Linked DNA regions of Homo sapiens: all the other regions are linked to region 4. The links come from fine-mapping of genetic effects on gene expression. A gene starts in region 4. Each other region holds a variant in brackets. All regions are shown on one strand. Distances are between the middles of the regions.

Region 1 (8,209 bases), 26 kb after region 4:
AGTAGAAGTATTTTTAAAAAGCTGTGGAGAGTGGTTTGGGAGGGGATTTTGTCCCTGGCTGAAGCTGGTCCATGCCTGGGTAAACTTTACTTATAAAAGAATACCAGGAACACACAAAATATTCTTCTCCTCTTTCTTTTGCAATCCAGTTTTGGAGCCAAAAAATAATCTGTGTGCACATGTGTTTTGATAATACTGTTTCGACTTAGGTGGGGAAATTAAATTCAGGAGTTTTATGACTTTCTTTTGTTCTGAGTATCACTTTAGAGTATAAAAAGTTTTTCAAAAGTTCTTTATCAGAAATAGTTTCACCCTATGTTGAATTAACAATACCCAGGATTGTGAGACATAAATCAACGTGAGTAGGAAGCTCCATCTGAGTTTCATCATTGTTTGTCTATCTTGGCAAGATTTATTCAGAAGCACCATAATGGGGGCCAATCCTTTTGCACCAGGCTCAGGCAGCTCAGGAGGCAGCTGTGGTGAGTGATGCACTCTACCAAGCACAGTGGCTTCTAGGAATAAAGAACACATACTCAACTACCTTCAAATGCCAATGGGCAATTTAAAACTGGTACTCATTCCTCTTCAAGAGCACCACTGGAAACATCTTTGGAATTGATGGGACAAAACTTATTTGATTATAGTGAAGGATATTTCTCTACGAAAATGGCTTCAAAATAGGAAAAAAGTAGCTACCACATCTTCCAGGAAATCCAATAACAGGTCAACTCTATTGGTAAACAAGCAAGTAAACAAGCAAGCAAACAAACCAGCATGTGACAGAAAACTGGCTAATATTCTGGGACGCTTTCCAGAGAAACATTAAGCCTTTTAAGTGTGTATGAGCCACTTTAAGAAACTTCATAAGTGTTGCTAAATTCACCACAGTCTGCTTCACCTAGAAAGGGGAACAGAGAAGAATTATTTTGTTAAACTGGGTTAACAAATCTTAAAAATTAATTCATTCTAGGGAAGGACTAGATAAAATTTCTGATCTAAATTAAGATTTTCAGTTCATTTCAACCACTAGAATATACTAAATAACCACTTGGGTTTGTTAAAATGCAGACTCCTGAGTTTCGGTTTCAATAGGTTGAGGGTGGGGCCTAGGAATCCTCATTTTAGCAATAACCCTCCTCTCCAAGTATGATTCTGACACACTGATAAACGCTACTAGGATGTAGCAAGAAGCAGGCCACTGCCGTGGCTGCTGTTGTTATCTCATTTAAGAGTATCTGAAGGCTTAAAAGACAAAAATAGTTGAGAACAGAAGGGGTCCTGAACATCAGGGCAGAAGAGCAGTGATTAGCCATTGCCCAGTGATAGTGACCACAGCTGGGAGGTGAACTTTCCCCCTTTCTGCTGCCACCAACCAGGGAATCCATCTCTAGGTATCAAGACTGGGCAAGTCTGTAATCCATGACCTTTTGTTACCTGTGTGTTTGCTAGGAAATATCCGGATGTGCGCCAGAGGAGATAAAATGAGGCTTAGCACAAACATGCTGCTGCCCAGACTTAACAGTGGTCAAAAGCAATGCTTATGCTTATAAGAACTGCTTGTTGGGCGGGCGCGGTGGCTCACACCTATAATCCCAGCATTTTGGGAGGCCGAGGCGGGCAGATCACGAGGTCAGGAGATTGAGACCATCCTGGCTGACATGATGAAACCCTGCCTCTACTAAAAATACAAAAAATTAGCCAGGCGTGGTGGCAGGTGCCTGTGGTCCCAGCTGCTCAGGAGGCTGAGGCAGGAGAATGGCATGAACCCAGGAGGCAGAGCTTACAGTGAGCTGAGATCGCACCACCACACTCCAGCCTGAGCAACAGAGTGAGACTCCATCTCAAAAAAAAAAAAAAGAACTGCTTATTCCAGGGTGCCAGCAAATGCTTCGTGTAGACATTTAAGCCTTCCACTGATCATGCAAACATGCTCATGGGGGCTTCACCCAACAGTCCAATGAGGCAAACCACATTCAGTTAAGCTCCGTATCAGCTCTCACAAGTGGCAGTCTCCATCTGTGTGAAACAGATTTCAGATGCAGAGGGCTTCGTGGTATTTGGAGGAATAATACCTTCCAAAACCGATCTGGGCAAGCCAAGCAAGGTGGCTGCCAATGTGGGGAAGCTCCAGAACGCCTGTGAGGCCCCTGTGGGTGGTTCTCCAAGAAGATGGGGGCCCTGGTCCTCACAGATATCACTGTACACTCCCCGGACTATTAAACAGCTCTGGTGGCAAACCTGGCGGGTGGGATTAGTGGGGGCACTCCTAGACTCGGAGATGGACAATTCCTAGCCAGAGGCACCCGGTCAGAGCGGGCAGCTTTCAGGCCCTGCCCATCCCTCGGGTTCTGGTGCACTGCCTCAGAAGAGTCACATCTGCTCTAGCCTTTGGGCCGCCTCTCAGGACAAGGGAAAAATGTTCTATCTCTGTGCTGCAGAGAAGTGCTCCTTTGTCAGCATAATAAAGTGGGAACCTCAAAAGTATCTGTTTTACTCACTTATTCAGTGTGGAGACTTATGGGAAAACAGTTTTATTTTGTTATTAAACCAGGCACTGCCTTTGGGCATGTTATTTATATAAAGATAACTGCGCTTTAGAGATTATGTCCTGTGAAAGTAAACTTTAACTTCGAAGAGCAGGCCCTTCTTAACAGTCATCCTGATAATTTGTTGCCAGGGAATAAAGTTGTAATTGCTACCTCTATATTCCTATGAAGTCAGATGGCTTTGCCAGCCCAGAAGACGACCAGTGGCCCGTGCCTCTCCTGCATGCACAGCAGCAAAACAAGCGCCAGGACTGTGGGATTCTTTATTCCAACAGAGTGTGAGAGTGTTTGTCTCAAGTAATGAGCCAGACAATCATTCCTAAACACCTGCTCTATGACACACACTGTCCTAGGCCCTGCTTGGAATTAAAAAAAATTAGAAACAAAACAAAACTGAGATTTCCAATCATGGTAGGGAGTCAATAGTTCAACACGGAATTGTTCTACAATTGAAAAAGACAGAGATTAAATAAATGCTAAGAATTTAAGCCCTCAAATGACCTACAACCTACAAGTCTACCTTAGTTATCATCACCGTAATCTCCTGAAACAGCAGTCAATCATTACAAGCAGAAAGTGCATTATAAATTACACTGAGCTAGGAGCCTGGCCAGCTACCAGTGAGGCAGCCAGAGGAGAAGTACAGCATCATGGATAGAAGTCAGGTGATGGCTCTGGAGCAAGAATGCCTGGGTTTGAGTCCCAGCACCACCACTTCCTGGCTGCAAGAACAAACAGTTTAGGCCAGTTTGTTCTCTGTGCATCAGCTTTCCATTTCACACATGTGGAAAAACAGCACCTACCTGTTGCGGTGGAAGGTTGCGCAAGAAAGGGATGTGGTGAGAACTGAATGAGTTAATACATGAAAAGTAGCCAGTATAGCACCCAGCCAGTAATAAACAATGGACACTAGCTGTTATTGTTACTGTTCTTATCACCTCCCCAGATATGCCAGAATTCCCTGTGTCACCTGGGAGAAGCACCAGTCCCTTGTATTCCCTCATTTGAACCCTTAGCTAACTCCAAAGACTCCAGTTACACTCTTCTTTCCTTTCCCTTTCTGTCTTCAGGTCCTGGGCTTTATTTTCTCCCATGGCCTCTTTTATCTCAGCCTCCTCCCTTCCATGCACTTCTTAGTGGGATAAACCACACATCCCCATAGGCATTTGTAGTACTGGGGCTGATGGGATGGGGTTACTTGCTCAGACTCAGATGAAGGGCATTCACAGTCCAGGAGCACCTGAGTCTAAGCCTCATGAGAAAATGCCATCGTGGGTCATAACTGGGCTCTGTTCAGGGCCCAATAAGCACAGCCTTAAAATGGAGTCTCAACCTGGTGTCCAGGCCTGTAGACAGAGTTCAGGGGTCTGCGAACTTGGCTCAAAAAAATTTTTTTTTCATTTTCATTAGGCTCTAACTGAATGTATCATTTCCTTCAATAATGAATGTAGGGAATAAACCACAGGGTGACAGCCTATCTGTGACTGTCTCCAACAGAAATAGAGAAATCACAGATACGTTCATATCATGTCACAGGTGTTGCAGATGTCTTAAAATATTGTCTTCAATCCTCACTACTTTAAAAGCACAGAAAAGGCCAGGCATGGTCGCTCATGCCTGTAATCCTAGCACTTTGGGAGGCTGAGGCAGGCAGACTGCCTGAGCTCAGGAGTTCGACACCACCCTCTTTATGAAAATACAAAAAATCAGCTGGGTGTGGTGGTCTATGCCTGTATTCCCAGCTGCTTGGGAGGCTTGAGGCATAAGAATCGTTTGAACCCAGTAGGTGGAGGCTGCAATGAGCTGAGATGGTGCCACTGCACTCAGCCTGGGTGACAGAGTAAGACTCTGTCTTGAAAAAAAAAGAAAAAGTAATAGACTTATTACTAGATCTTATATTTAATATATTAATAAAACGATTATACCACACATTTACAAATATTTTCATAAATGTATTTCATTATAGTTGATTTTCTTCTTAATCCTCTGTATTTTATGTGTTTAAAACATTATTCTGAGAAGGGGTCAGCGGCTTTACCAGACTGCCCAGGGTGTCCAGGGCACATGAAACGGTTAAACCCCCCTTGCCTTAGAAGGCTGAGGATGGCTGTAAGGGCGGCAATCTTAGGTGAAAGATGTGTAAGTACTTACTGAACTGTGACATTATAATATTCTTCTGGTGTCACGATTTTTGGTCCACCAAAGTAGTCCAGGACCCAGATATTGGTTATATTCAACTTAGCAAAGAACCAATTATGGCTGGAAGGCCAGGTTTTCATCTCAGGGTGTCGAATGAATAACGAATGCTTTGCAATATCCATTTCTGTTTCATTCACCTAAAGGACATATATGAAATAAACATTCTTATGGCAGTAACACTTTATCTTCTCATTTGTTAAGAATGTGTGATTAGGCCGGGTGCAGTGGTTCACGCCTGTAATCCCAGCACTTTGGAAGGCCAAGGCGGGCGGATCACGAGGTCAGGAGACTCAGACCATCTTGGCTAACACGGTGAAACCCCATCTCTACTAAAAAAAAAAAAATTAGCCAGATGTGGTGGTGGGCACCTGTAGTCCCAGCTACTCAGGAGGCTGAGGCAGGAAAATGGCA[T/C]GAACCCGGGAGGCGGAGCTTGCGGTGAGCCGAGATCGTGCCACTGCACTCCAGCCTGCATGACAGAGCAAGACTCCATCTCAAAAAAAAAAAAGAATGTGTGACTCTAGCATTCTATAAATCCTAAGAGTTTACTTACTTGTAAATCTTGATCTTAACCTTAAGGAATCAAGAGAAAATAAAGGAAATGTAAAGAATGCAGAGAATAAAGATTTCAATTGTTGGTAATAACAGATACCACGAAGTGGGAAACCACTGTAAGTATAATACCAACTTTCATTGGTAAAAAGGCATTTTGAGCTATTAGAATAACTAGCACTAAGTACTGTAACATTACTGGTGCCTAAGACATGTAATGTTTAGCATATTTATCCCATAACATGGACATGTTAAACATACAGATGAATGTACTGAAGGATAAAAATGTTTAGAAACCACATAACAGAACTCAAAAGCATGTGCTGCTCCTCCATCTTTTTCCTGCCAGTGAAGGACACTCAACTACAGAGATGCATCCACAAAGAATTTACAGACCATAAATAACACTTGTCTGAGGCATTAATGATTGACACGGTCAAAAAGCAAATCTGCTGGCTGGGTAATCAGATCAGCACTCCTGACACCATGCCCACTGCTCTTCCTGAGATTGTATTTGACCTCTTCCCTTCAGCAGGTGATCCAAACTAAATTCACTTCCAGTTTTCAGTAATGGATAGTCCTCTGGTTGGCCTACTTAATATGTTTTCTCTGCTTTAAGCCACTGTTAAAATATGGAGACAAGGAGCCCAGACATGGAAAAACATTATACCAATGTAAAATGTAATGGAGAGTAGAGGGCTTTGGTCAACCAGATGCTCTTTAGTAAGAATAACTTTATATACAGGAGCTTCATAGTTGTTACATCTGCTTGGCTTCAGAAAATCATTCATTTTTGTCATATCTTATTTAACACCTATATGAAAGCAACTTATTAAAACGTTTGGTTTTCATGGAATTACTTCACCTATTAGAATAGAACATGTTCTGACTGGGCATGGCAATCACAAATCAACTGCATTTCATTCTGAAAAGATCTATTCTGCCAGGCATAGTGGCTCACGCCTGTAATCTCAGCACTTTGGGAGGTCGAGGTGGGTGGATCACTTGAGGTCAGGAGTTCAAGACCAGCCTGGCCAACATGGTGAAACCCCATCTCTACTAAAAATACAAAAATTAGCTGGGTGTGGTGGTGCGTGCCTGTAATCCCAGCTACTAGGGAGGCTGAGGCACAAGACTCGCTTGAACCCAGGAGGCAGAGGTTGCAGTAAGCCGAGATCACACCACTGCACTCCAGCCTGGGAGACAGAGTGAGACTCTGTCTCAAAAGAAAAATGATCTATTCTTTCATTGTGAATACGATGGTGTTCTGAAACCATCTCCCTTCCTGTAGGATAACTACTTACCTTGGTCACAGTTCCTGACAGCATTATGTGAACACAAAGGGGACTTTGTGGATCAAATCCATGTTTCTTGCAGAAGTTGGTCTGTGCCAAAGTCATGGTCAGTGTAGCATATGGATTCTCCTATAGAGAGAAAATGAAGATCCTCTCATGTGAAATATGGTTTCTGGAGAGGTAATAAATTTCAAAAGTTGCATACATGATGTCCCTAGAGCTTGACTGGTCTTCCACGAAACAATGAATCATAAAACATCACCTTCCACTCAGGGGAAAATAATACTTGGAAAGTATCCTGACCACTCCCCAAAGGGGGTGCGGGGGTTCATATTTAAAATGAACTGACTTGGTAAAAATTATTTCAATATTCTTTTTCTGAAACCCTGAATTTATTCCATATTCATCAGAAGAATTATAATTATAGTGACACCCAAATTCAAGGCTGTTCTATAGGCTTCACTGAAAGATTTAAAGGGTTAAACTCTATACAAAACCATTGCTAAAAACACCACAGTTGCTCAATTGGCTAACTACGCGATTTAAGCAAGAAAGTAGCTGAATCATGCTACTTGGTTATCTTACATTAGCAGAAACTGTCATGTGATTTCAAAACTGGAGAAGTTGTTCATTCCTGCTTTAGTAACAATGAGTTTTATCCCACATTCAAAAAGTAACACAAGTAAAATTCTTAATGCTTTCTTATTCAGAAATCAACTTCATAAAAGGCACTGTTGACAGATTATAGCAAAATTCACACATCGCATTTTAGACTATTTAGCTCTTTAAGCTCTAAGTGCCTTGTGTGGAGAATTTTGCCATTTCACACTGACCCATCAAAACAAAGAGTCATAAAGAGATTTCTTTGAAATCATTTAGCCAAATAGTCACTGTCTAGAAACTATTAGGCAAGGCACCACAGGAGACCAAAGAAGGGGAGGGGGACACTCAGGTAAACTCTCTCCCTCCGTGAGTTTATAATCTGGTTGAAAAGGCAGACATAAACAAATGTGTATGTCCAGCATAGACCAGAGTGATAGAGGAACTGTAAGGAGCTTTATAATATATTCAAAACCAGGATAGAAGGTGGGAGGACATATTAAAGGGAGAGGAGACACTGACTGCAAAAAACACAGAACTGGGTGAGCCTAAGACTTGATGAACAGTACCAAGAAACCTGATTTGCTGGAAAGAAGGGCTTTCCTACGGGAGGAGCCTGGGGTTGGGAGTGGAGAGGGCTCCAACCTAAGTTAAGGAGTCTAGATTGTAATTTGTGGGCCAACCTTAGGCACTGTTTTCTAAGAACCACCTGCCTGGAGAGCTTGATAAAATGCTGATTTGGGTTAAAATGTTGAAACAGGCTTCACTCCCAACCCAAATAACTGCAATTTTTTTTTGTTTTTTTTTTTTGAGACGGAGTCTTGCTCTGTCACCCAGGCTGGAGTGCAGTGGTGCGATCTCAGCTCACTGCAACCTCCAACTCCCAAGTTCAAGCGATTCTCTTGCCTCAGCCTCCCGAGTAGCTGGGATTACTGGTGTGTGCCACCACGCCCAGCTGATTTTTGTATTTTTAGTAGAGACTGGGTTTCATCATGTTGGCCAAGCTGGTCTTGAACT
Region 2 (8,000 bases), 63 kb before region 4:
AGATGGCCACCTACAAGCCAAGGAGTGGCACCTCACGAGTGGTCATGTGGTGGCCATCCTTACTAGGAGAAAATGTCACGCACTGTGCTGGGCAGTGAGGGTGGAGGTGACAGACACAGATGTAGCCTCCCAGCCGAGCAGAGAGGTGGGCAAGGAAACAAATCATCCCACGAGAGAGGGGCACAGGGTGCTAAGGAAACATGAGGGAGGGACGATGCCTGCAGTCACGCTCTGGGAGTAAACAATGACAGGCAAGTGATCTCCTTTGGTGAGCAGGTTGCATGTTTCAGTTCCCTCCGCTCATTCCACCAAGAGCCCCCCAACGCCAGTGGACAAGTCTCTCAGGTTAGCAGACAACACTTGCTATATGCCAGGCACATAGAGTGTAAGATACACACACACACTTGCATACATATGTGTATATACACACACATAAATAGAACAATACAAACATATATGTATGCATGTACATATATACATAGAGAGCAATATGTGTGTGTATGTGTGTGTGTGCATATATATATATTATAGATATATATTATATATATATATATTATAGATATACAGAGAGAAAGACACTTATTCTTACCTCTTGTTGCCAACTTGGACATGTAGCTTTCTCTGGCTGACTCCAGGGACTGATGCTGTAACAATCATTGTCATACCAAACATTTGCTCTACACTTTCAGTTTACAAAACCCTTTTATATTTTTTATTTCATTTGATCCTAACAACAATTGAGTGAGGTAAGCCGGGTAGATCTTATTTGCTCCACTTTGCAGATAAAGAGACTGAAGGTCAGGGAGGTGAAGTGACTCTCCCGCAGTCAAACAGCTCATGTGTCAGAGCCTGGACGAGAAGCCAGGTCTTGCCGGGCCTTTGTTCTTTCTCACGCAGCACACTGCCCTCAAGTTTTGCTCTTGAAAATTAGCACCATTTCAAAAAAATCTACTTTCGAGCAAACCCCTTATGTCAAAATTCCAGGCAGTATTTTGCCATTTCTCTGAGAATTTAATTTTTTCTGAGGATAAACTCTCACAGTATACAGAGAAAATAATGTAAATGTCCATCAACTAGGAACCTGATAAATTTTGGTGTATTCATATATAACCGTTAAAAAAAACACAACAGATAATTCTACATGTGCTACCATGAAAGATCTTCAAGATAATTAGGTTTTAAAAAAGGTGGCCAGGTGCAGTGGCTCATGCCTGTAATCCTAGCACTTTGGGAGGCTGAAGCTGGAGGATTTCTTGAGCTCAGGAGTTTGAGACATAGCAAGACCCGTCTCTGCAAATAATGACAATAACAAAATTAGCTGGGTGTGGTGGCACACACCTGTAGCCCCAGCCCCCTCCTCCGGAGGCTTAGGTCGGAGGATCACCTGAGCCCAAGAGGTGGAGGCTGCTGTGAGCTGTGATCATGCCACTACCCTCCATCCTGGGCAACAGAGTTAGACCCTGCCTCAAAAACAAAAACAAAAACAAAAAAAGCTCTAGATACTTGTGTATGAAAAAAACACTATGTAAGCTGCATATATATGTATATATACATAAAAATATATCTAGATGGAGTTTCTGTTTGGGATGGTGAAAATGTTCTGGAAATGGATAGTGCTGATGATTGTACAATAATGTAAATGTACTTACTTCATGTCACTGAATTACACTTAAAAATGAAAATAGTAATGTTATATTATTTTACAAGAAAAAACACGTTAAAAATATATGTATATCTGGAGGGCCGCACACACAAAAATGTCATCCACGGTTACTTCTGCAGAGGAGCCACGGGAGGGGGAGGCTGGGTGAATTTCACTTATTTTCCACCTTACACCTTTTTGTGGTGTTTGGAACTCTAACTATGATAGTATATAATATTTATAATACTAAACAACCAAAACAAAAACAAATAACATGAACCCTTACATCAAAGAAGGTGTGTGCGGCAAGATTCTGGCAGGGCAGAAAGTGGAGGAACAGGGGCTGGCCCATTTAGCGAAGCGCTTTGCGCCCAGCCCTGGCTCAGTACATTTCTGGTGATGACTTGCCGGGGTTTGGAAGGACCTCAGCTATACAGAACTTTCACGATAATGGTATTTGGTGAATATGGTTACATTTATATATGAACACAGAAAACCAACTACTGCTGGTAAATAGCATGATCACTATTGTTATTATCCAGTGCTGTAAGGACGAGATGCTTTCACCAGCAGCCGAGTGAGATGAAAGCGCTTTTCCGATCCACCGAATCAGTCCCACTGCAACTGTAAGCTGGAGACCCTCTGGGCCTTGGGAGCTCAGGCTGCCTGGGCAACGCAAGGGAGGACAGGGGCGGAGGGGGAGCCAGGAGGGCCGCACCTGCCTCGCTCGCTGGTCGCCCTCGCTCTGGGATCCGTCCTGCCGGTCCCAGGCTGTTGAGGGCGCCTCCTCAGAGTCCCTGTGGCCCCCGCAGCTTCCCCGGAAGAAACCCGTGCATCCATCGGCTAGCCCAAGCCCAAGCTCCTCCCGGAGCTCCCCGAGCCGGGGCCAGGCCTCCGCCCCTCGGTGCCCGCGCCTGGGCTCCTCCCGCTGCGGGCCGCCCGCCCGGACGCAAGGCACAGGGGGACGCCCCGCCGAGCCGCTGCCCACTGCACCGAGTTTTTCGGAGGCTGGGAGAGGAAATGCCACTTGGATTTTAAAACCGTCACCGATACGCTATAGGTGAATATTTCGCTGGGATTTTAAAGAGACGAGCTTCAGCCTGCTAAGCCGCGCTCACGCCGCCTCTCCGCCCTGGCCTCCCCGCGTCCGGCTTGGGGCCGGGTCCCTCCCGGGTCAAAGCTACGCCGGGTGCACTGCGGGCTGGGCAGCTCTCCCACTACGCCCAAAGCCCAGGCGGCCGGGACCGCCGTCCCAAAGTCACAAACCACACCCGTGAAGGACGCCCTCCGCAAGACAGAGAGGAGGCTGGGCCTGGGAAGGAACCTCCGGCCCTTCCTCACCATGCAGCCAAGGTGGGCTCCCAGCCCCGTGTTGCCGCCAGCCGCGGCTCCCGTGCGGTTACGGGAGCAGCAGCCCCGCCCCGCCGGCCCCCAGCTGGCTCCTCGCTCGAGGTTTCCTGTCGAGCGCTGCCATCCAGGGCCCGGGTTATCGCGCGTGATCTCCCATCTGAGCTGCTCACACGCTGCCGCCCGCCCCCACTTGCGGTC[C/T]CTTGTCCCCGAACCGCACCCGCCCCCAGGCCCCCGCGCTGAGAGACCAGGGCGTGGATCTGCGCCGGGCTCCGGCGCTGGGGGCCGAGGGTCTGGTTTTTAGATATCAAAGGAGCCCGACACCAGGGTCCCCCAGACAGGCAAGGAGAGGGACCCGGCCTGGGGCCTGCCTTCGGTGGTGGGCACAGTGGCCAGGATCGGGCCTGGCTCCGGCTGGCCCGGCACACGAGCACGGCGACAGTGGCAAGACTGGGAGGGCCGGCGCTGCCTCCTTGGGAAGCCCCGGAGAGACGCAACCCTGAGAGGCTGGGCCTTCCCACCCCCCGCCCCCTCCCCCTTCCTCAGATAGCAGGGAGGAAGCGCCAGGGGTCTCTCCGTTCTCACATAGGGGGACTCCAAATGTCGTCAAACCTGCCACTCTCGGAATCAACAGCTGCTTTCATTTTGAGCCCTGTGAGCAAAAGTTTCAGGGCTTTCCTGGCACACATACCCAGTGCATGGAGAGCGCTAAATTTTATCTTCCCTTCTAGAGTGGGACATTCCTGTGTGGAGCTCCGAGAATACATGCCGGCACTGCCTGTGCCTGGGGCTGTGCTGGCTCCCACCCAGCTGCAGGAATGAGGGACCACGGTACGGAGGGAAGTGGCTGAGTTGACAGCCACTGATAGAGCTTTTTCCTGATTGTCTCTGGCTTGAGCTAACCAGGTGGCATGACAAAGTACTTAACAAAAACTACAGATGCAGAGAATTTTGGAAATTTTTAAAAGACAGGAAAAAAGGTGGTTGAGGCAGAAAAAGGTAGTTCTAGAGTGAGAGGGGTTTCTTTCCTCCTCTTGGCTCACAGCAGAGGCCAAGTCCTTAGCAGTGTTTCCAGAGCAGGTGAATGAGACTCTCTGAAGGCCGGCCCAGGGGTCTGCCTTGTAACACGTTCCCCCAGCTTCTCATGTACACCACCACTCTTCGGGGACCACCACCTTCTGGGTTGGATGGGTCTGGAAGATTCTACGAATATATCCAGCCCTACCTGAGCATTTGCAGAAAGCCTGCTCTGTGAGGGAGGGCAGCCCCAAAGCTCTCTGTTGTAGACACAGAACCCAACAGGGACTACTGGTGCCACACTCTATCTCTTCTGTCAGAGAAGCACCCAAGTGAGCCATGACTTTGACATTGCATGGCCATCTTATGTTCATTCCTCAAACTTTGTCATGTTAATGTGTACTCTCTCGGGGACATCATACCTAACACGGCTGCCTGAAGATCTGCTTCGTTTAGAATATGCTAGTGAGGACAGTCCTGGAATTTCTTTGTCTCTTTCCAGCCCTGCTTTCTCTACCTCCAGTCGTTTTCTGAGGACCGGCTTGGTGGGTGCTGATGCCTGCCTGGAAGACCTCACACCCACAGTGTCTTAGAAGATTCTGAAAGCAGTGTGAGGTACCAGCCTGCTTTAGCGCTAGGAGCTGGCATGGTGGGGGTCTCAGGCTGCATCCGCACATTCTCAGCGGTGCTTTTGCTCCTGGAATGGAGCCACAAGCTGCTCTGGGCCATTTAGAGACTCTAAGTGGTTTGCTCAGGGCTATATGGAAGTGGGAGGTGGGGGACCTGGGCGCTCTGTAGCATGCTTAGTCCCCCTGGCAGGGTTAGAGGTTAGTTGACCAGAGACAACGAGTCCAATTCCCAAACAGACCAGAATGACCAGCAAAGGAGAAAAGAACAAGGACACATTGCAGCCAAAATGGAGCTAGAATCTTGCCTCTGTCCATCCTTCACTGGAGTTATCCTGGATGGAGAAGGAACCATATCACCTGCAAAGCCTGGAAGGGGAGCCCTGCTGTGAGGTGAGCCAGTAAGTCTGTGAGTTCAGGAGGGAGCACACGCTTGTCTGTCCATCTGTTCATGAGCAGGCGCTCTTGAGTCTTCCTAAATATTGCCCAGAGCTCTCCATCCAGATACTGTCCTTTCCCTTCCTCTCCATTGATGGTCTCCAAGCCTTTCTTAGCTTTCATCTTCCCCTAAGGATTCCTTCTCCCAAAGCTCCAGCCCATTCCAATGTCAACTGCATTCGTTGTTTTTGTTACTCTCATTGTGTCAAATGGGTTCTTTCCTATGCAACTAGATTGTAGGTTGCTCCAAGGTAAACACCGTGATTTCTAGTTCCTTTGTTTCTACCACTGCAGGACTGTAGGAAGCCCAGTTGTAGGCATCACTAGGACTCAGTAATTACATAATTGCTCAGATAATTGAGAGAATGATTGATTGATTAGTGGTCATTAATGCCATAAAATGAAGGAATTTCGCCCCTCACATTTTCAAGAACCTATGAGTTCGAAGAGACCTGAAAGAACATTTTTATGGGAGCCTACACCAGTGCTATCACCTAAAGTGCGTGACCTTAGGGAAGTTGCTTCACCCCTTGTTTCTGTGCCTCCAAAATACTGGTGTTAATACAGTAATTTCTGATTCCTTCCACCTGTGCCCTGCTCAGCGATCCAGTGTTCAAGCTGGTCATCAGGAGAAAGCTACTTATGATTTCCTAACAAGCCACCACAGAACATCACATTCCCAAACATGCTCTTCACCGTCCCTGCTGTCCCCACGTGCCTAGCCCTGGTGTGGGCAGGAATGAGTGGGATTGGGATGTTTTCTCACAGGTCTTTCTCAGGTGAGGCCCCAGGCTGTGACCAGGCCCCTGCCCTGCATGTGACTCAGGCCTAGCCCCTGCTGGGGCAGGAATGCCACCCAGCACAGCATCCTACTGGTGCCTGAATAAAGAATGGACTGGAGGTTCACCTGAAAGGGGCTGCCAGGTTTCTGCGGGGGCCAGCCAACGGCTCACAATGACCCTGTGTTCGACTCATCTTACGATGAAATTTTTCAGCTTGACGAACTTTTACTCATCTTTCAAGGCTCGGCTCAAATGTTATTTCCCTGGGAAAACTGCGCTACTTTCAGCAAAATGCATTTCCTTTTGATGGGCATCTGTTTTTTTCTTTCTTTCTTTCTTTCTTTTTTTTTTTTTTTTTTTTTTTTTTGAGACAGGGTCTTGCTCTCTTGTCCAGGCTGGAGTGCAGTGGTGCAATCTTGGCTCACTGAACCTTCACAATGGGCATCTGTTTCTGTTCTATGGAGTGACCTAAAAGTCAAGAATCATGGAGAAATTGGGAGCAATGGCTCACGCCTGTAAATCCCAGCACTTTGGGAGGCTGAGGCAGGCGGATCACTTGAGGCCAGGAGTTCGAGACCAGCCTGGCCAACATGGTGAAACCCCGTCTCTACTAAAAATACAAAAAAAAAAAAATCTGTTAGCTGAGCACTGTGGCGTGCGCCTGTTATCCCAGCTACTCGGGAGGTTGAGGCACAAGAATTGCTTGAAGCTGGGAGGGGGAGGTTGCGGTGAGCCGAGATCAAGCCACTGCACTCCAGCCTTGGTGACAGAGTGAAACTGTGTCTCAAAAATTTTAAAAAAAAAAAAATCATGGGGAGAATTTATTGTTAAACAGAATATTAGTTACATTTTCAAATAATACAGTCAATATGTTTTTCTGTAACCTTTAGATATGTTTTCAGGTGAAGTACCTCTAAATGTAAAGAAATGGGTCCAATTGTTAATTTTTTTTAAAGGTTCAAGAAATACACTACTTTCTCTGGCTTTTTCCTTACAACTCTTTTTTTTTTTTTTTTTTTTTTGAGATGAAGTCTTGCTCTGTCACCCAGGCTGGAGTGCAGTGGCATGATCTCAGCCCACTGCAACCTCCACCTCCCGGGTTCAAGCGATTTTCCTGCCTCAGCCTCCTGAGTAGCTGGGATTACAGGCACACGTCACCACACCCGGCTAATTTTTGTATTTTTAGTAGAGACAGGATTTTGCCATGTTGGCCAGGCTTGTCTCAAACTCCTGACTTCAGGTCATCCGCCTGCCTTAGCCTCTCAAAGTGCTGGGATTATAGGCTTGAGCCACTGTGCCCTGGCCTCTTGTACCTTTTTTACATTAACAACTGGACTCGCTTTAAATGTAGAGATACTTCCTGAAATGGTGTGTGAAGGTTGAAGAAAAACATGAGCATATTATTTGAAAATGTGGCTAAAGTTCTGTTTTAAAGTAAGTTTATGGTAATATTTCTAACTTTTCAGATGCTCTGTAGTTCTTGGCACATTTTTCACTAATATTTGGTGACAGGTCTGTCCCCGTTAAAAATTGAGAATTCCACAAAGCCTGGGATATGTTTTATTCTTCTTTGACTCTTCACTCCCCAGCTAACCACCATGCAGTGGGCAATCATAAGGGTTTAATGAATGAATAAATGATCAAGTCAGGTAGGTTTTCCCCGAATTCTTGTCTTTGGGGCTGAACCCAGGGTAGGTTTCCTGGCATCATTCCTGTGTTTTCTACTCTCCCTCCCTAATCCTCTGAAAGTTTGAACAAAAATAAGATTATGGGCCAGGTGTGGTGGCTCACGCCTGTAATCCCAGCACTTTGGGAGGCTGAGGTGGGAGGATGGCTTGAGCCCAGGGGTTTGAGACTAGCCTGGGCAACATGGCGAAATCCCGTCTCTACAAAAAATAGAAAAATTATCTGGGTGTGGTGGTGCGCACCTGTAGTCCCAGCTACTCGGGAAGCTGAGGTGGGAGGATCACCTGAGCCCGAGGAGGTCCAGGCTGCAGTGAACCAAGATCACATCACTACACTCCAGCCTGAGTGACAGAGTGAGACCCTGTCTCAAAAAATAAAAATAAAAATAAAGAAATAAGATTATGACCAAGAGCCGTATGTCTCAGATGTTGAAGGGCAATATACCTGTGCTTCAGAAAAATC
Region 3 (8,000 bases), 78 kb before region 4:
CTACTAAAAAAACTACAAAATTAGCCAAGCGTGGTGGCGCATGCCTGTAATCCCAGCTACTCGGGAGGCTGAGGCAGGAGAATTGCTTGAACCCTAGAGGCAGAGGTTGTGGTGAGCCGAGACTGTGCCGTTGCACCCCAGCCTGGGCAACAAAAGCTAAACGCTGTCTCAAAAAAAAAAAGAAAACAAAACAAAAGAAACCAATAACCAAGTTATGGAATCAACCTAAGTGTCCATCAAAGAATGAACAGATAAAGAGACTGTGGAACATACACACAATAGAATACTATTCAGCTTTTAAAAAGGAAGAAATTCTGTTATTCACTCTAACATGGATGGAACTAGAGACCATTATGCCAAGTGAAATCAGCCAGGCACAGAAAGACAAACACTCCATGTTCTCACCTATATGTGGAATCTAAAACAGTTTAACTCACTGAAGCATGGACAGGTAGCATGATGTTTACCAGAGGCTGGGGAATGGGGGGAATGGGGAGATGATAGTCACAGGGTACAAAGCCTCAATTAGATAGGAAGAGTAATTTATTTTTAGATCAACAGCACAACATGCTGAATATAGTTAATATGTGAGTACTATACATTTTAATATCTCTAAGAGTAAGTTGCTAATGTTCTCATCACAAAAAAGTTAAAGATTTGAAGTGATAAATATGTTAATTAGCTTAATTTAATCATTTCATATTATATTCAAAAATCATAACAATACTTTGTACCCCATAAATATGTAGAACTATAATTTGTCAATATAAAATAAATAAAGACAGAGGAAGGAAGGAAGGAAGGAAGGAAGGAAGGAAATCAGAATGAAGGGGAAAAAACAAAGAGGACCCTACCCTACTGTGGTGTCATCCAGCTGCTCCCCTACCCACAGGTATACCCACAGGTATAGTGTCTACAAAGCCAAGAGGTCAAACCCCCCAGGGACCATACCCCGACCATATGTGGGTTATCCAGGGGTCTTGGGCCCTTCCTGTATGGACCTCTTCACCAGGTCTGTCCTCTTGGGGCAGATGGCGTCACCGTATGTGCATCTCAGGATGGCCAAGGAGCAGTTTGAGGGGAAGTGGGTAGAGCTTAGACATGAGCAGTGGGGTGCCACGTCCGGGGGTGAGGCCCCTTGAGATGCAGAATGGAGCCAAGGAGGAAGGAAGAGGGTGCGGCAGCAAGTGGGTCTCCATCTCTTCTCTTGTCCTGGGCCCACACATGTGAGGGTCGAGTCTGGTTGCAGAGTGAGCTGAGGAGCCCTCCCCCACAGCCTGGGCTGAGCCCCACCACACATGCAGGAACACACAGGAAGGTAGAGGAACCCCTACCGGCTTTCCCCCCATCTCAGGGTCCCGGCCACGTCTCTTGTCCAAAACATCGTACTCCTCTCTTCGTCCTAGATTGAGCTCCTATAACAGATAAGAAAGTGTCAGACACAGGACGGAGGAACCTCAGAAGGATGGAGCCAGCTGGACTGGGGAGTGTGGTTTCCCTCTCTGGGGTGGCTCATAAAAAGAGGGGCAGGGGCTGGGGAGGGGATGGTAACTGGTCCATCTGGAGACCATCATCCCAGAGGACATCTCAGAGAACACGCCTTAACATGACAGTGGATGGGATCCCCAAAGGTCACCAAGTACTATAGGCTGATCAGTCCAACGGGATAAGGATCAACATTCTCATGAGCAAATAGAGAAGTGGGGGCTCAGAGGTGGTAGTCAATTTCACCACAGTCCCATTGCACAGGGAGTGTGAAATCGCTTTCCCCTCCTCTGGGAAGATTCTAATACATTCCTTCTCCACCCCCCTCTAGCCTTTGCAAATTGCTGATGGCTTGGGGGCTCACTAGTGGCAGGCACTAGACTAAGCTCGTTCCATGCATCAAGACATTAAAGCATGTAATCTTTATGGCGCCCTTTGAGACAGGTACAATTACTACACCTGTTTTGTGGGTTAGAAAACTGAGGTTAAACAAGTTGCAGCCGGGTCGCAGAGGTGATAGCTAGGGACCAAACCTAAACCCAAGACTCTGGCGGGCGCGTTCCCTAGGTCCGAGGAGGAGGCTGCCCTTCCTTTCCGGAGGGTCTACGGCGAGGCTGACTTACGTTATAGAGCTGGTTCTGGCCCTGCTGGTACGCGGGGGCGTCTGCGCTCCTGCTGAACTGCAACACAGAAAGCAAAGCGCGTTACTGCTCCGCGAGGGCGCGCAGGGGAGCCGGGGTGCCAGGGCGCGCGGCGACCCGAGGGACAGCCCTACTCCGCTCCTTGGCAACTAACAATGCTGCCCTGCCTCCTGGGGCTGAGCCCTTGCAGGGGCCGGGGCGTGGCAGCCCCTTTTTCTGAGCCCAGTTGTCCTTTTTCCTCCCGCCTGTGACACGTGCATTCATCACGCTGGCCCAGGACCCGCTGGAGTTTATTCTTCCCGGGCTAGCGCCCTCGCGCGTGCGCAGAGGTATAAGGTTCTTGGTCTGCGCCCCCGGGGACATGAGTATTCTCTAGGATCCCTTCCTCCGGGGACTCTGAGGACAATCCAGGGTGGATGGCGGCTGGTCAAGATCCCGCCTCCTATCTTGACCCCCGGAGCAGTGTACTGTACGTGCATCACTCGCCCAGCCCTCAGCCATCGCCCGGCTGCCCCGGTGCCCAGGAAGCCTCGCGTTCGCTTAGTGTCCTGAGCATCTGTGGGAAGCTGACACAGCCTCACTCCTGCTTCACTTCATGCCGCTTCAGGCGGGAGAAACTGCAATGTCTTACAGATCTAGAGCATTGGAAACAACCTTAGAAATCATCTAGGGCAGCATTTTCAAACTTAAAACAAGAAACTCAGTAAGATTTGGTTTTTCAAATAAAATATTATGCCAAAGTCCAAAATTCAAACAAGAAATGGGTTGAGAAGCACTGAAGTGATGACTGGGACTGGATTCTCCCCTTTACTCCTAAATTCTTCCAATCTCTGCCCACACCATGACCAGCCCCACGAAGAAATCCAGGGTCTGCAAGGCACCAAGTGAAAAACCCACGCTCTGGTCAGCTCCCCAGTTACAGATGAGGAAAGGGCCTTTTCAAGAGAAAGGCTAACATGGCCTTCATTCACACTTGGAAAGAAGGACCTCTGCCTGAGTGTAAGCCCCTTTGTCACCAGTAGCATCGCCTTCCCTGGGACACTCTGATGTGCACACATTTGTACGGCTTGTCATGGAGGTGCCTAGCACCAGGCTCTCCCTCCTACCCTGTCCATCTCAGCCAGACACTGCCACCTCCTCCTCAGCCCACTCAAGGCACACACTTGGCTGGTCCTTGCTTTGCTCCTGGATACCAAGCCCCAGGCACCACCCGAGCTTGAGACCTTCCAAGACCAAGGCCCCTCTGAACATCCATCAAGTGGGGGACCCCGTGCCCTCCTCCCAAAGCCCAGTGGTACCCACCTTCACTCTCAGGAACAAGGCAGTGAGAATGACACCATAGATGAAGAGGATTCCATCCAGCAGGTAGCAGAGTTTGGGATCCAGCAGGCCAAAGCTCTGTGCCTCTGTGCCAAGAGATAAAGCTGGTCAGCCAGGCCCAAGGTGACGAGAACACATCCCCATTACCCCAGGGTGGCACTAGGACTGACTGACCAAATAAATCATGACACGGAGACTATATCCAATCCCCATGCCTCAGCCTGATCACAACCCTCTCCCTCCCTCCCACCTCAACCAGCTCCTGGAAAACCTATTGGCACCAACGGCAGATGTGGCCGCTGTGGGGCCAAAGAACCTGGGGCAATGGGAGGGGAGGTGGAAACAAGGCGAGCAGATGAGGCTGTTCTCTGTGCACAGAGCTCCTGCCACTGCAGCAGAAGCCCAGCCATGTTAGCCCCGGTGTGAACCAAGAACTCTGGAAGCCTCGGGAAGATGTTCACGTCTGGATGAA[T/C]GGTACTCCTGGCCTGAGGTGTGTGGCTCTGAGGCCTACCCACAGGGAGACAATAGGTCAAATGATGGTCAAATGAGATCATTTCAATATCTGACAGTTAACTAGGACAGGGAGAATCTGGGTTAACTCTCCCCCAACTCCCTGCCTCCTCAGTGCCAAGCACTCTCCCGCCTAGGACAGTGGGATCTGGTGCTCGGCTTCCCTTCCCTGTTCCCTGAAGGGTTTCATGGCCAACAGACAGAGGTACCTTTGGTGCCCCTCCCCACCTAGGCCCAGCATCTCCCTGTCCCCTAGTCCCAGCTCCATGGCCTCAGCCTTCTCTGTCTCCCCTCCTCCCACTACACACACCCCATTCCCAGGACACGCCTTGCTCTTCCAGACTATTTGCCCTGTGCCTTGCACTCTCTGTTCCCTCTTCATGTTCCCTCCATTTCTCTCCCTGAAACCCTACTATTTGGTAACATTTGATGCATCCTACAAAATGCAGCTCAAAGATCCCTTCTGTGTTAGCTTCTCCCACTGCAAATTTCCCAGGGGCCCCTAACTCCTAGTGCCATATTAACCTTTGTCAAGCTGTAGTTAATGCACGTTTAGTTGGCACTGCCATTGGAGTACAATGGGCTGAAGAATGCAGATACACTAAATACTCTGGTTAAATAAAAGTTTGCATTTTTGGGCTGGGGGCGGTGGCTCACGCCTGTAATCCCAGCACTTTGGGAGGCTGACATGGGTGTATCACTTGAGGTCAGGAGTTCAAGTCCAGCCTGGCCAACGTGGTGAAACCCCATCTCTACTAAAAATACGAAAATTAGCTGGGCGTGGTGGCTGGCAGCTTTGATCACAGCCACTCTGGAGGCTGAGGCAGGAGAATCGCTGGAACCTGGGAGGCAGAGGTTGCAGTGAGCCGAGATCACGCCACTGCACTTCAGCCTGGCACACAGAGTGAGGCTCCGTCTCAAAAAAAAATTTAAAAAGTTAGTGTTTTTATTTGGAACATCATTGCACTGTGAATGAGGAGACTCAGATTTTAGTCTGACCATACTTCCTACTAGGTAAACGTGCAGCAACTCAACCTGTAAAACAGGGTGTGGTACCCATCTCACTCCACCCCTGCCTGGTAACTAGAGCAGAGGTCCCAGGCCAGCCCCGCTAGTGTCTGTCTCCCAAGGCCTGGGCGCCCTCTGGTGGCCTTTGGACCCAGATGAGGGCAGAGGGAGTGGAGGCCATATGTGGGAGTGCTGTCATTCTTTCTGGCTGTGTGATTTGGGGCAGGTTATGTATGCTCTGTCAGCTGCCTCTTCTGTTGAACAGGGTGAAAACTAACATTTCTTCAGACACTGCCTTAAATGTAATCATCGTCAGATCCTCCTGCCACCCACACTCGGACACTGAGGCACCGAGTATTCGGGTTCAGAGCACACGGTCACAGGCAGCCCAGGACTGATCCCTAGCAGTTCTCGCCCCCTTCCTGCCCCTGGGCCAGCCCTGCCTACCCCTCCATGCCAGCAACGTTTTGGCCTCCCTGACGAACTATGGAAGCAGATGATTCAAAGGCAGCCGCCAGTGTCCCCACCCCCACCACCCTGAATCCCTCTGTCCCCTGGCTTTTGACTCCAACCCTAATTCAGGACCCCTCTTGCCCCCAGGCAGCTGATCTCTACAAACCTCCCACAGACCCTGCCCAGAGACCATTGATGACCCAGCCACTCGGACGAGAGTCCAAGCTCTTTGTCCAGCCATGTTAGGGCTCTGCCATAACCAGTCCAGGCCTGAAAAGACCACAGCTTTGTGCCACCCTGTCCCTCTGCTCTTGTCTTTTCCCCCCATTCTTCCTTGAACACCCATATTTTTCTACCCCCTGGCCTGCTGAGCTAGATCTTTTTCTAGGCTTGCGTTCTACCCCTCCACTCAACACCTGTTGAAATCAGACTGTCCCACCACCTGAGCCCCTGAGGAAAAAGTGAGAGGATGTCGGTTCAAGAGCCTATATCCCCCAAAGCGCTCTACAAACCCAACTCCTCAGGACTCAGATGCCCCTCCATCTAGGCTGTCAGCACCTGAGACCAATGGCTGCATCTTCATTATTGCCTCTTCCTCCAGCCCCAGCATCAGAGTGCAGGGCACAGGGTAGACAATCACTCGATATCATGGAATTTTTCAGGGCTGAACTTCAGTGATGAGGAAGATGCTGGGCCCAGCCCCAGGTGTGCCTGCCCTCTGGCCCCAAGGTATTGCTGGAAGTCCTCACTGACCTAGGGACGATCTAAAGGCCTCTGGGGGACAAGCCAGCCCCCATGAAGGCCACCAAAGCTGGGGTGACTTTTTGCTGTGAGGACTGCAGAGGAGATAACCGTGGCGATTTATGGGACTGGTTGAGACTCAGAAGAAAATCCAGGAGAAAATCACTCAGCTGCTTGTCACAGAAAATTAGAACAGAAAAATTACTGGACAGTAAATTTAGCACAAATAAGAAATATTTCTTTGTGTTGTGCAGACTCAGCACAACACAAAGGGGCAGGGGGATTGGGCATGTCCCTGAGATAAATAATATGAACAAGTTTCCTTCCTTTCTTCCTTCCCTCCTTCCTTCTTCCTTTCTTTCTGCATAGTTTTATGACTGATGACAAGTGTGCTGTGTGTGGTTGGGTGGAGGAGAGGATATTAACCCCAACATAATTCCCTGTGTAGGACCCTCCTCTCCTCGGTCCCACTATACCTGTGCTGGGAGAGATGGGCCTGAGGAAGACAGTCATGGCCCAGAAAGCTCCATGCAGGGATGCAGGACCTGATTCAGTTACGCAATTAATTAAATATTCATTGGGCATCTGCTCTGTGCCGGGAACTATTGAAATGGAATGAACTCTGGATTGCGTGCAGGTGGGTTCGAGTACTTCTCTTGCCACTTACTAGCTGTGTGGTTTTGGACAAGTCACTTCCCTCTCTGGGCCTCAGTTACCTCATCTATTAAATGGAGGGTAATCATATCTACCTTAAGGGTTGTGATGAGAATCAAAAGACAATGATGTCTGATATTTGGGTCGAGTCTTCTGAGTCCCTGCCCTCATGGGGCTTAAGTCTTAGCTCTTGAGGCCGCACACAAGGTGTAGGAGCTTCCCTGGACAACAGACAGTTTTGCAGGATGCCAGCTCAAAGGCACCGCATCGCCACTCTCTACTTGGTCCTGGCTTCTTCCCTGTGCGCGCTCCTGTGGCTTCTTCGTATTTCTACCAATTCCATCCCAAAGGGACCAGCAGCTGCTTCCTAGGAGGTTTCAGGGTATTACATGGTAGCTACTTTTCTGTAAAAGTGGAGAAGCTGTTTTATTTAATGTTCCTGATCCCTACCCAAGAGTACAGCACCCAGGAGAACCTCAGCATCTGAAAGGAGCCCCAGAGACTAATAGAGCATTCTCACACAGACTCTCAATCCACCGCCCTCTCCCCTGAGGCTCTGACTTAAGTGGCCTGGAGTGGAACCTGGGCATGGGGACTTCACTGCATGGCCATGAATGGATTGAGATTCAGACCTGCATCATTACAGGGGCCACAGCATGTGAGAGGGAAGCCCTGCCTTCTGTAGAGATGCAGCCATACCCTACAACAAATGTAAATTTCTGTCAAACAGATGCAATAAAATTAAAGCTTTGGTCCTTCTTATACACTGTACTTCTGAACTGTGTATTATGGAACTTCTCTAAGCCTTCGTTTTCTCATCTGTAAAATGGGGATAACAACACTACCTGTCTCATTAGATGGTGGTGAGGGTTAAATACGATACTTTTTTTTTTTTTTAAGTGGAGTCTCACTCTGTTGCCCAGGCTGGAGTGCAATGGCATGACCTCAGCTCACTGCAACCTCTGCCTCCCAGGTTCAAGTGATTCTCCTGCCTCAGCCTCCCAAGTGGCTGGGATTACAGGTGCACACCACGATGCCCTGCTAATTTTTGTAATTTTAGTAGAGATGGGGTTTTGCCATGTTGGTCAGGCTGGTCTCAAACTCCTGACCTCAAGTGATCTGCCCGCCTCGGCCTCCCAAAGTGCTCGGATTACAGGCATGAGCCACCGTGCCTGGCCAAATATGATA
Region 4 (8,185 bases):
TTTGTTTCTGATTCCTTTCAAAGTAATACTTTGAAAAACTTTTGTCTATGAGCCTTATCTAAGATAGCTAAAATGTCAGTCTCCACAGAGGCAAAGTAAGTGGCACTGAGAAGTAAAAAAATCCAGCCAATCCCCCTGCCCCCTATTTGTGGAAATGGGGCACAGCCCCCATCTTGCATATATTTTTTCAGACATGTTTTTACTTCGGGAGAATATTCCCCTACAGAGTAAGTATCTTTAAAAAATGAAAATGGTGGATGTAACAGTCATCCTATGACCAGCCAGAGCTTTGCTGCTTTTTCACTATCGGGCCTACCTCTGCAATCATTGTTATGTTTCTGTGCTGGTATGGGTGTGCCCAGAAATCAGAAGAGGGATGAGTTGGATTGCAACAGATGGAGAAAATGCCCACTGCTGCTTTATAACATATTGAAAGCAAATGAAGAATCCCAGCCATGGGTTTCCATCTCCTGTTTTGAGAACAAGAAGACAGTCCGAGATGTAATAATAGTAATAGTAAATACAATGTTTACTTATTGGCTGTCTACTATGTATTGGACACATTACATTACTTCTCATTGTCACATCTCTGCAAAGAAGGTATTACAAGTCTTTCTTTAGAGGTGAGAAAACTGAGGCCCAGAGAGGTTAAGTAACTTGCCTAAGGTTGCACAGCTAGGAAGCGGCAGCACTGGGACACCACCTGAAATTAGCCTGGCTCTTTCTACCACGTCCAGCCACCTTCCTAAAAGCAGAGCCACTCACAAGCCTGGAAGCTTTGCATTCCCCAAGGCTGCATGTCAGAGCTCCATCTCCTCACTGATAAAAGACAAACACCACACTGACCGCTGGGTGCATTCTTGGCTACTGCAGAGTAGGGAGTTAGAGGCACTGAGGGCTCTGCAGGCACAAGTGTGCCCATGCCACTAGGCACGCCATCTTAGGATCTTCTGGCCTCAAGCCCTGGTGACTGTCTTGGTAGATTCTCTCTCAGGGAGGCCTCCTCATGTGGACAGACCAGGTCATCATTTGCTTTGATCCTAATAATCTGGGCATTTCCAAAGAAATGCAAATGCAACAGCTTAGTAAAAAGTAGACATTTTAAAAGGGATGTATGCAATGGGTCACTTAACTGAGCAAGAAAAGAGAGAAGACCTGACTGAAATTCTATGTGCGGCCTTTCCTCCGGGGAGACTGTGGAGGTGTCCCCTCAGGCAGCAAAAGCACCATCGCAGCCCTCGGTGTCAAGGCCTCTCTGAGTCGCGCTTTGCCTTACCGTACCTCGTTTCTGGGCTAGGATATTTTGAAACACTTTTGTCTATTAGCTTTATCTAAAATAGCTAAAATATCAGTCTCCATAGAGGCAAAGTAAGTGGCACTGAGAAGCAAAAAATCCAGCCAATGTGCAGTTTTCTCCTCCTGCCCCCTATTTGTGGAAATGAGGCACGGCCCCCATCTTGTCTGCTGGGTGGGGTTCTGTTTACCACGCTTGGCAGCCACCGCCACCCAACAATCTTTCATTTTTCTTTCTAACTTCACTTTGCCCCTACCTTGGTCTCTCCAAGCCGAACACAAATGGACCAGTGAGGAAACTGCAGGTAAAGACCCTGAAAGGTTATATGAGCTCCCTGGTGTGGTGTCTCAAGCCTGAAGCTCAGAGGCTGGAGCTATTGCCCCTGGCTGTCTCCCCTGAAGTCACTAAATTCCAGCGTTCTGGGTCCCCTTGTCCCCAGCACACAAGGATGGGCTGCTCTGAGCAAGCTCAGGCACCCTCACTCTGCCACACTGTGTGTGTGACTTAGACCCCACAAGGCTTTTCTGAGAAAACAGCTGTGACCTGACAGAAACCCCTGCAGCTGCACGGGCCTCAGAATCCCCCGAGGCGCTGGCCCGGGCTGTGCCTGGCTCCCTGGTGGGAGCAGAAGTGCCCATGGCCTCTCCTGCCCTCCCAACAGGGCCCCTAAACAAATTCCCACACCCAGGTGAGTTACCAGGAGCGATCAGGTGGGCCGAGGACATTTGCTTGCTTCACCTTCCCTGTTTCTTTAGATTGAAATTCAGCCTGCCCCACTTCTCAGGAAGATGCCACGAGGCTGATCCCCCTGAGCAGTTTGTCCTGTCCTCTTTTCACTGGTTTTCTTCCTCATTACCTGGGCTAGAAAACATGGTGGAAGCTAAAGGCTTGCAGCAAAGCTGGGCTCCCACGATCGGGAATGAGGTGAGGAGCAAGCACTCTTGTTGGCTGGGCGCTGCTCGTGGTGGTGACTTAACCAGGCACATCGTCTCATCTGCCCCGTGTTCTGTCAATGCCGGGCCCTCTGGCTGGGCTAGATGGCCGCCTAAGGGGCAGGCTGGGGTGAGTCACGGAGCCTGGGATGGTGCGTCACCCGGCAGTCCCAGGCGTGGGTGTGGGGACAGCCATGACAAGGCTGAGCCTAGACACGGACGCTTGGCCATGAGGTGGCGAAGGCGCTGTGGAGGCTGCCACCCGGTGCTTCCTGCCTGTGCCCCTCTCCTCCTTGGTTACCCCACTTACTCCCGGGCCCATTGGAGTGTTTCAGGCCATGACCTTGACTGACCAACAAAATCTTCTTTGTTGGCAAAGGAAGAAAGAAAGGGGCTGAGTGACGGAGCCAGCCAGAGGGTGAAAGAAGCTGAAGGGACTAGAACGTCGCAGCACGAAACATGGCCTGGCTGACATTTTCCGATCCTGTCCAGCTTCTGTGAAACACTCCCTCTCCGTTTCTCTACCCTGGGCCTGCCTCGGTTGCTCTCTTGCTTCCTTCTTCCTTCCTCTCTTATCACTCGAAAAATCTGTACCTGGAGGAGCTGTGTATTCTAGCAGCTGGCTCTGAACTGATGCCCAACTCGGCTGTGACGGAGCAGATGCCAGCACCGGGCCGGACCCCTCACTGCTCACTTGCCCATTGATTTGAGGAGGGCAGGATTTGAAGGAGACCCCAGCCCCTCACCACCCTCCACTACCCACACCCACTCCCCTACACATACACAAAGAGTTTCTAGAAGTTCCCTGCCGTCGACACGTCGGCCCTACCTGTAATCGGCAACTGTGCCTGCAGGATGGCCGCGGTGAAAAGCGCCTTCCACTTCATCTTGTCCTTTCCCTCAGAAAGAGGCTGGGAGGCAGAGGCTGAGGCAGCGGTGGCCGGGACGGTTAGGAGAAAAGGAGTCTCTGCTGGTTTTATTCTGCAGCTACCTCCCCAGGAAGTGGAGGACTGTGGGGCCTTTGAGAAAGCACCTGCCGACAGGGCCAAGAAATTCGCACTCCCCCTTTCGGTTCACAGGCAGGAAGCCCTGGAGGTTTGAGGGTTTGGGGTGTGTGTATGTATCTGTCTGTCTGAATTTTGCTTTTTCTCTCATTTGACCATTGTTTTAATGCTCCTTTTTTTAAAAAAAATAATTCTTATCTAATTCCTATCTTGATTGGTAAAGTCCATCTCTAGGCAAATACAAGTTCTCGATGGATGTAAGAACATTTGCTGTTTTCCTAGACTGTCAAATATTTTATGGTGGCTGGCAAAATGACAGAACCCTGGATTAGAGTCCAGGACAAATGTAGAGACAGATTCCTTGGGCTTTAGTGACATCTCTGCCTACCACCTACTTGCTGTGTGGCGTTGAGTCAGTCACTCAACATCTCTAGACTTCAGCTTCCTTATCTATAAAGCAAAGAGCTGGAGTAGATCTGAGGTTGCAGATCTGAACTTGGCCTGAATTTGGATCATTGTGTGAAATACTGTAGCTCACATAGTATTTTAAACACTTGTGTTAGTTGTCAACATTTAAACACCAGAGTAATTTACAATAATAAAACATTAAAACCTAGACATAAACTTCGTCTAAAAATTGTAATATATCTATATGAAACAAACTTTAAAACATTGCTGAAGAACGCCGAAAGGACTTGGGTAAATGGAAAGGCATACCCTTCTTTGATAGGAAGCTCTCTTTTAAGGAGACCACCATTCTCTCTTAATTAATCAATCTATTTCATTGAAAATACCAACAAAAAGTTTTAGAACAAGTTAAGCTGATTCCAAAATTGATATGAAAAAAATTAATGTACAAGAATAGCCAATAATCCAAAGTCACAGCAATCCAACATAAAATTGATAAATTGGACTTCATCACAATTAAAAGTTTTTGTGCATCAAAGGACACTATGAAGAAAGTGAGTCCTGCAAATCACCGCATACCTCTAAGTGATGGAAACAGCATTCCCATCATCAGACTTGGTACCTACTCAGAGCCTAAATTGACCCCTAAGGGGGCCGATGACTTACTCAAGGCCACACAGCAAGTAGGTGGTAGGTAGAGATGTCACTACAGCCCAAGTAGTCTGTCTCTACATTTAGTCTGAGTCTTCATCAGTGAAGGTTGTCATTGGTCTGGGGTGCTGACACACTGATGAAGCCTACATATACCAAAATGAAGACACAGCTGGGGAGGCCATCAGGGGGAAAATAGCAGAAGGAAAGGTGCAGAGGAAGGATATCTTCTACTGTGGAAAACTGTGGGCTACAAATCACAACCCAGAGCTGGTCTGCCCGAGCCTAGAGAGGATGCTCAAGGTCCTCCAGCTAGATTGTGTGGATCTTTACATCACTGAAATACCCATGGCCGCTAAGCCAGAAGACAAAATCTACCCTATAGGTGAGAATGGCAAATGGTTATATCACAAGTCAAATCTGTGTGCCACTTGGGAGACTTCGGAAGCTTGTAAAGATGCTGGCTTGGTGAAATCCCTCGGAGTATCCAGTTTTAACAGCAGGCCAGCTGGAGCTCATCCAGAACAACCCAGGACTCAAACCCAAGCCAGTCAGCAACGAGGTTGAGTGCCACCCATATTACACCCAACCAAAACTTTTGAAATTTCGCCAACAACATGACATTGTCATGATTGCATATAGCCCTTTGGGGACCACTAGGAATCCAACCTGGACAAATATGTCTTCTCTGCCTTCGTTAAAGGATGCACTTCTAAAAAGGTGCAATAAGATCACAGCTCAAGTTATTTTGCGTTTCAACATCCAGCAAGGGGTGGTTGTCATTCCTAAAAGCTTTAATCCTGAAAAGATCAAGGAAAACCTTCAGGCCTTTGACTTTTCTCTCACTGAATCAAGGACATTGAAGCCTGGAGTGAAAATGTCCGCTTCATAGAAATGCTCATGTGGTGTGATCATCCCAAATACCCATTTCTTGATGAATACTGACTTCAGAGAGTTCCTGAACAGATTCTCCCCTCCCACGTGTGGAGGACCTTAGGGTGCATAGTTCCCCATGGACACGGAAATGAAAGAGGTTTTATTATCTGAAAAGTGGTGATGGAAACATGCTTAACTTTTGTATAGTGTAAGTGATTTTAACTCACCCATGTTAAAGACAAAATGTTTAAATCTGTTGAAATTCTTAGGAAATTATCACCTAATATTTTATTAGATAAATGTCTTCTGGGTTCCAGACCAAAAACAAAACAAAACAAACAAACAAACAAAAAACAATTAGATTCCAGAAAAGACTTGAAAGGCAACAGATGACAACCAGCAACAAGTAACTCATGAATGTGGGTAGTAACATTGTTAGCCTGAGTTCTTTAGCAGTCAACAGGACAACAAAGACAGCAGAGGGCCCCCATGTGCCAGGGTGCTGGCAGTGGCCTTGAGGACTTGAACCATTGACTGCAATACAGACACAGCCAAGATAAGATCCAGACATGCATTATTAACAAAAAAGTGATTTGCTGCACCTTGAGTAGGGAGAGAGGGCTAAGTGTAGAAAAGTCTTAAAATAGAGTCAATTAAACACCACAGTGATCAACAAAGCCATAAGGATTTTATTGTTGTTTGTTTCTATCCGATGTATGTTTGTTTAGCTTTTACTCAGCTTGAAGGATGCATACTTGCTGGTTCTCTTTTGCATCCTCAGAGGGTCTGAGTTTCAACATAACTAGTGGTCCATACTTACATTGTCTTATATTCACTCTTGCCACATTGATCATCGAATCACCATTACGTGAAGTGGCTTGAAACAACCAACATACATAAATAAAACTCTGCATCATAAAGTATTCCAAAGACGGCTATTTTAAAACAAGACATTTTATAAGGGGACTTTAGGAGACATATTGAAAGAAGAGGCTTTATAAAAGTACTATGCTTAAGTCTTTAAGAGTGTTATTGGGATAGCTATGTGAATTTTGAGAAAATAGCACGTTCAAAAGAACACTGGTAATTGTACTCTATGTAAATTTTTAAAGAGAATAAAATTATTAGAATTCAACAACAGAGATGTACCTATTTTCAGTTCAACTACAGAAATATATTTTATTCATTCATATTAGATCACTCTCACAGGGCAAGAGAGTTCTTCAAAAATTATGCTTTTCCAAGACCAATTGCTTATAGATAATCTTCAATGACCTGTACACATACATTTCTGAGAAAGTATCACTTAAAAACTTGATCTATACTGATTGTTTTCACTGATTCCGATGTTAATACTTACAATGCTTGTCCTCTAGACAATACTTTGTTCACAAGAAATCATGAAATATGATGACAAAGAAAGACAAAAGAAAGAACGAAGAAAGTGAAAAGACAACCCAACCCACAGAATGAAAGAAAACATTTGTAAATATACTGATAAGGGTCTAGGATTCAGAATATATAAATAACCCCTATGACTCAACAATAAAAAACATAACCCAATTAAAAATTGGCCAAAGATGTAAATAGACATTTCTCCAAAGAAGACATACAAATGGCCAATTAGCACATGAAAAGATGTACAACATCATTAGTCATTAGGGAAATACAAATCAAAACGACAGTGAGATACCACTTCTCACCCACTAGGATAGCTAAAATAAGAAAACAGACAATACAAGTGTTGATAAGGATGTGGAGAAACTGGAATTCTCATACATTTTTGTGGGTTATATAAATGGTGAAGCCCTTGTGAAAAATAATTTGGCAGTTCCTCAAAAAGTTAAACATAGTATCATGTGACCCAGCAATTCTATTCCTAGATATATACCCAAGAGAATCGGAAACCTAGGCTCACACAAAAACTTGTAAAGGAATGTTCATAGCAGCATTATTCACAGTGGCCCTAAACTGGAAACAATTCGAATGGCCACAACTAGGAATGGATAAGCAAATGCGCCGTATCCAAACAATGAAATATGACTCAGCCATCAAAAAGAATGAAGCACTGTTACATGCTGCAACTGGGATGACCCTTGAAAACATTATGCTAAGCGGAAGAAGCCAGGCACAAAAGGTTACATAGTGTATGATTCCATTTATATAAAATGTCCAGAATAAACAAATTCATAGAGATAGAAAGCAGGTTAGTAGTTGCCAGGGGATGGGGAGAGTGGGGAATTGGGACTGTCAATAGCTATGAGGGTTCCTTTGAGATGATGAACATGTTCTAGAATTGGACAGTGGTGATGGTGTGCAACAGAGTGAATATACTAAAAACCATTGAAGTATGCACTTTAAAATGACACATTTTATGTTATATGAATTATATCTCAATACAAAAATAATGCTAAAACAAACACAAGAATAGTTAGGAAAATTCTTGCAAAGAAGAGTAAAGAGAGTGAAATAACCCTGCCAGATATCAAACAATAAAAGGGGTGTAATTATCATACAGTACTTAGGGTACTATAGACTTAAACATATATGGTCAATTGGTTTTCAATAAAGGTACAAGAAAAATTCAGCAGGAAATGGTAGTCTTTTCAACAAATGGTGGTAGAACAACTGGATATCCACATGGAAAAAAAATTGACCCTCGGTTCATACCATACACAAAAATTATCTAAAATGGTTCATAGACCTAAATGTAAAACCCAAAACTATAAAATTTCTGGAATAAAACATAGGAGAAAAATATTTGTGATAGAACACAAAAAGTAAAAACCATAAAAGAAAAAATTGGTAAACTGGACTTTATCAAAATTAAAAGTTTTTGCTTTGTTCATTGAAAGACAGCAGTAGGAAAATGAAAAAGAAGCCATAGACTAGGAGAAATTATGTCCAAACACATACATCAGACAGAGGACTTATATCCAGAATATGTAAAGAACTATTTTAACTCAATAGTAAAGTAATCAACTCAATAAGAAAATGGGCACAAAGTTTGAATAGACAAT

Alleles and levels. Positions count from the first base shown, and alleles are read on the strand shown. Sizes are in standard deviations (SD) of each study's normalised expression. Not every link is listed here.
For the expression in caudate of the gene that starts at base 3,177 in region 4, C is the high allele of the variant in region 1 and T is the other (small effect, 0.38 SD a copy in GTEx).

What was found.
Region 1: its variant is fine-mapped to the expression of CD247 in caudate (GTEx, PIP above 0.99). The same link has a PIP of 0.9 or more in skeletal muscle.
Region 2: its variant is fine-mapped to the expression of CD247 in whole blood (TOPMed, PIP above 0.99).
Region 3: its variant is fine-mapped to the expression of CD247 in whole blood (TOPMed, PIP 0.94).

What each region holds. Positions count from the first base shown.
Region 1 is chr1:167,541,401-167,549,609 of GRCh38, forward strand. It overlaps CREG1 (cellular repressor of E1A stimulated genes 1), which reads right to left. Exons shown (of 4, transcript NM_003851.3): 2 at 6,602-6,721; 3 at 4,701-4,885; 4 at 1-901. The coding sequence ends at 898. Among named protein-coding and RNA genes, the nearest start is that of CREG1, 8.3 kb to the right of the region's middle. RefSeq lists an enhancer at 7,105-7,249 and a cis regulatory region at 7,168-7,185. The variant T/C (reference allele first, on the strand shown) is at 5,160.
Region 2 is chr1:167,452,497-167,460,496 of GRCh38, forward strand. The region is part of intron 1 of CD247 (CD247 molecule); the gene reads right to left. It overlaps LOC101928512 (a long non-coding RNA gene), which reads left to right and starts at 2,570. Exons shown (of 4, transcript XR_007066724.1): 1 at 2,570-2,702; 2 at 4,509-4,621; 3 at 4,873-5,025. RefSeq lists silencers at 2,424-2,533, 2,554-2,643, 2,734-2,823, 3,164-3,393. The variant C/T (reference allele first, on the strand shown) is at 3,191.
Region 3 is chr1:167,437,236-167,445,235 of GRCh38, forward strand. CD247 (CD247 molecule) reads right to left here. Exons shown (of 8, transcript NM_198053.3): 2 at 3,429-3,532; 3 at 2,109-2,165; 4 at 1,335-1,415. Among named protein-coding and RNA genes, the nearest start is that of CD247, 77 kb to the right of the region's middle. RefSeq lists a silencer at 2,179-2,308. The variant T/C (reference allele first, on the strand shown) is at 3,919.
Region 4 is chr1:167,515,353-167,523,537 of GRCh38, forward strand. CD247 (CD247 molecule) reads right to left here and starts at 3,177. Exons shown (of 8, transcript NM_198053.3): 1 at 3,056-3,177. The coding sequence starts at 3,113. It also overlaps the pseudogene AKR1D1P1. RefSeq lists enhancers at 1,574-2,537, 1,809-3,008.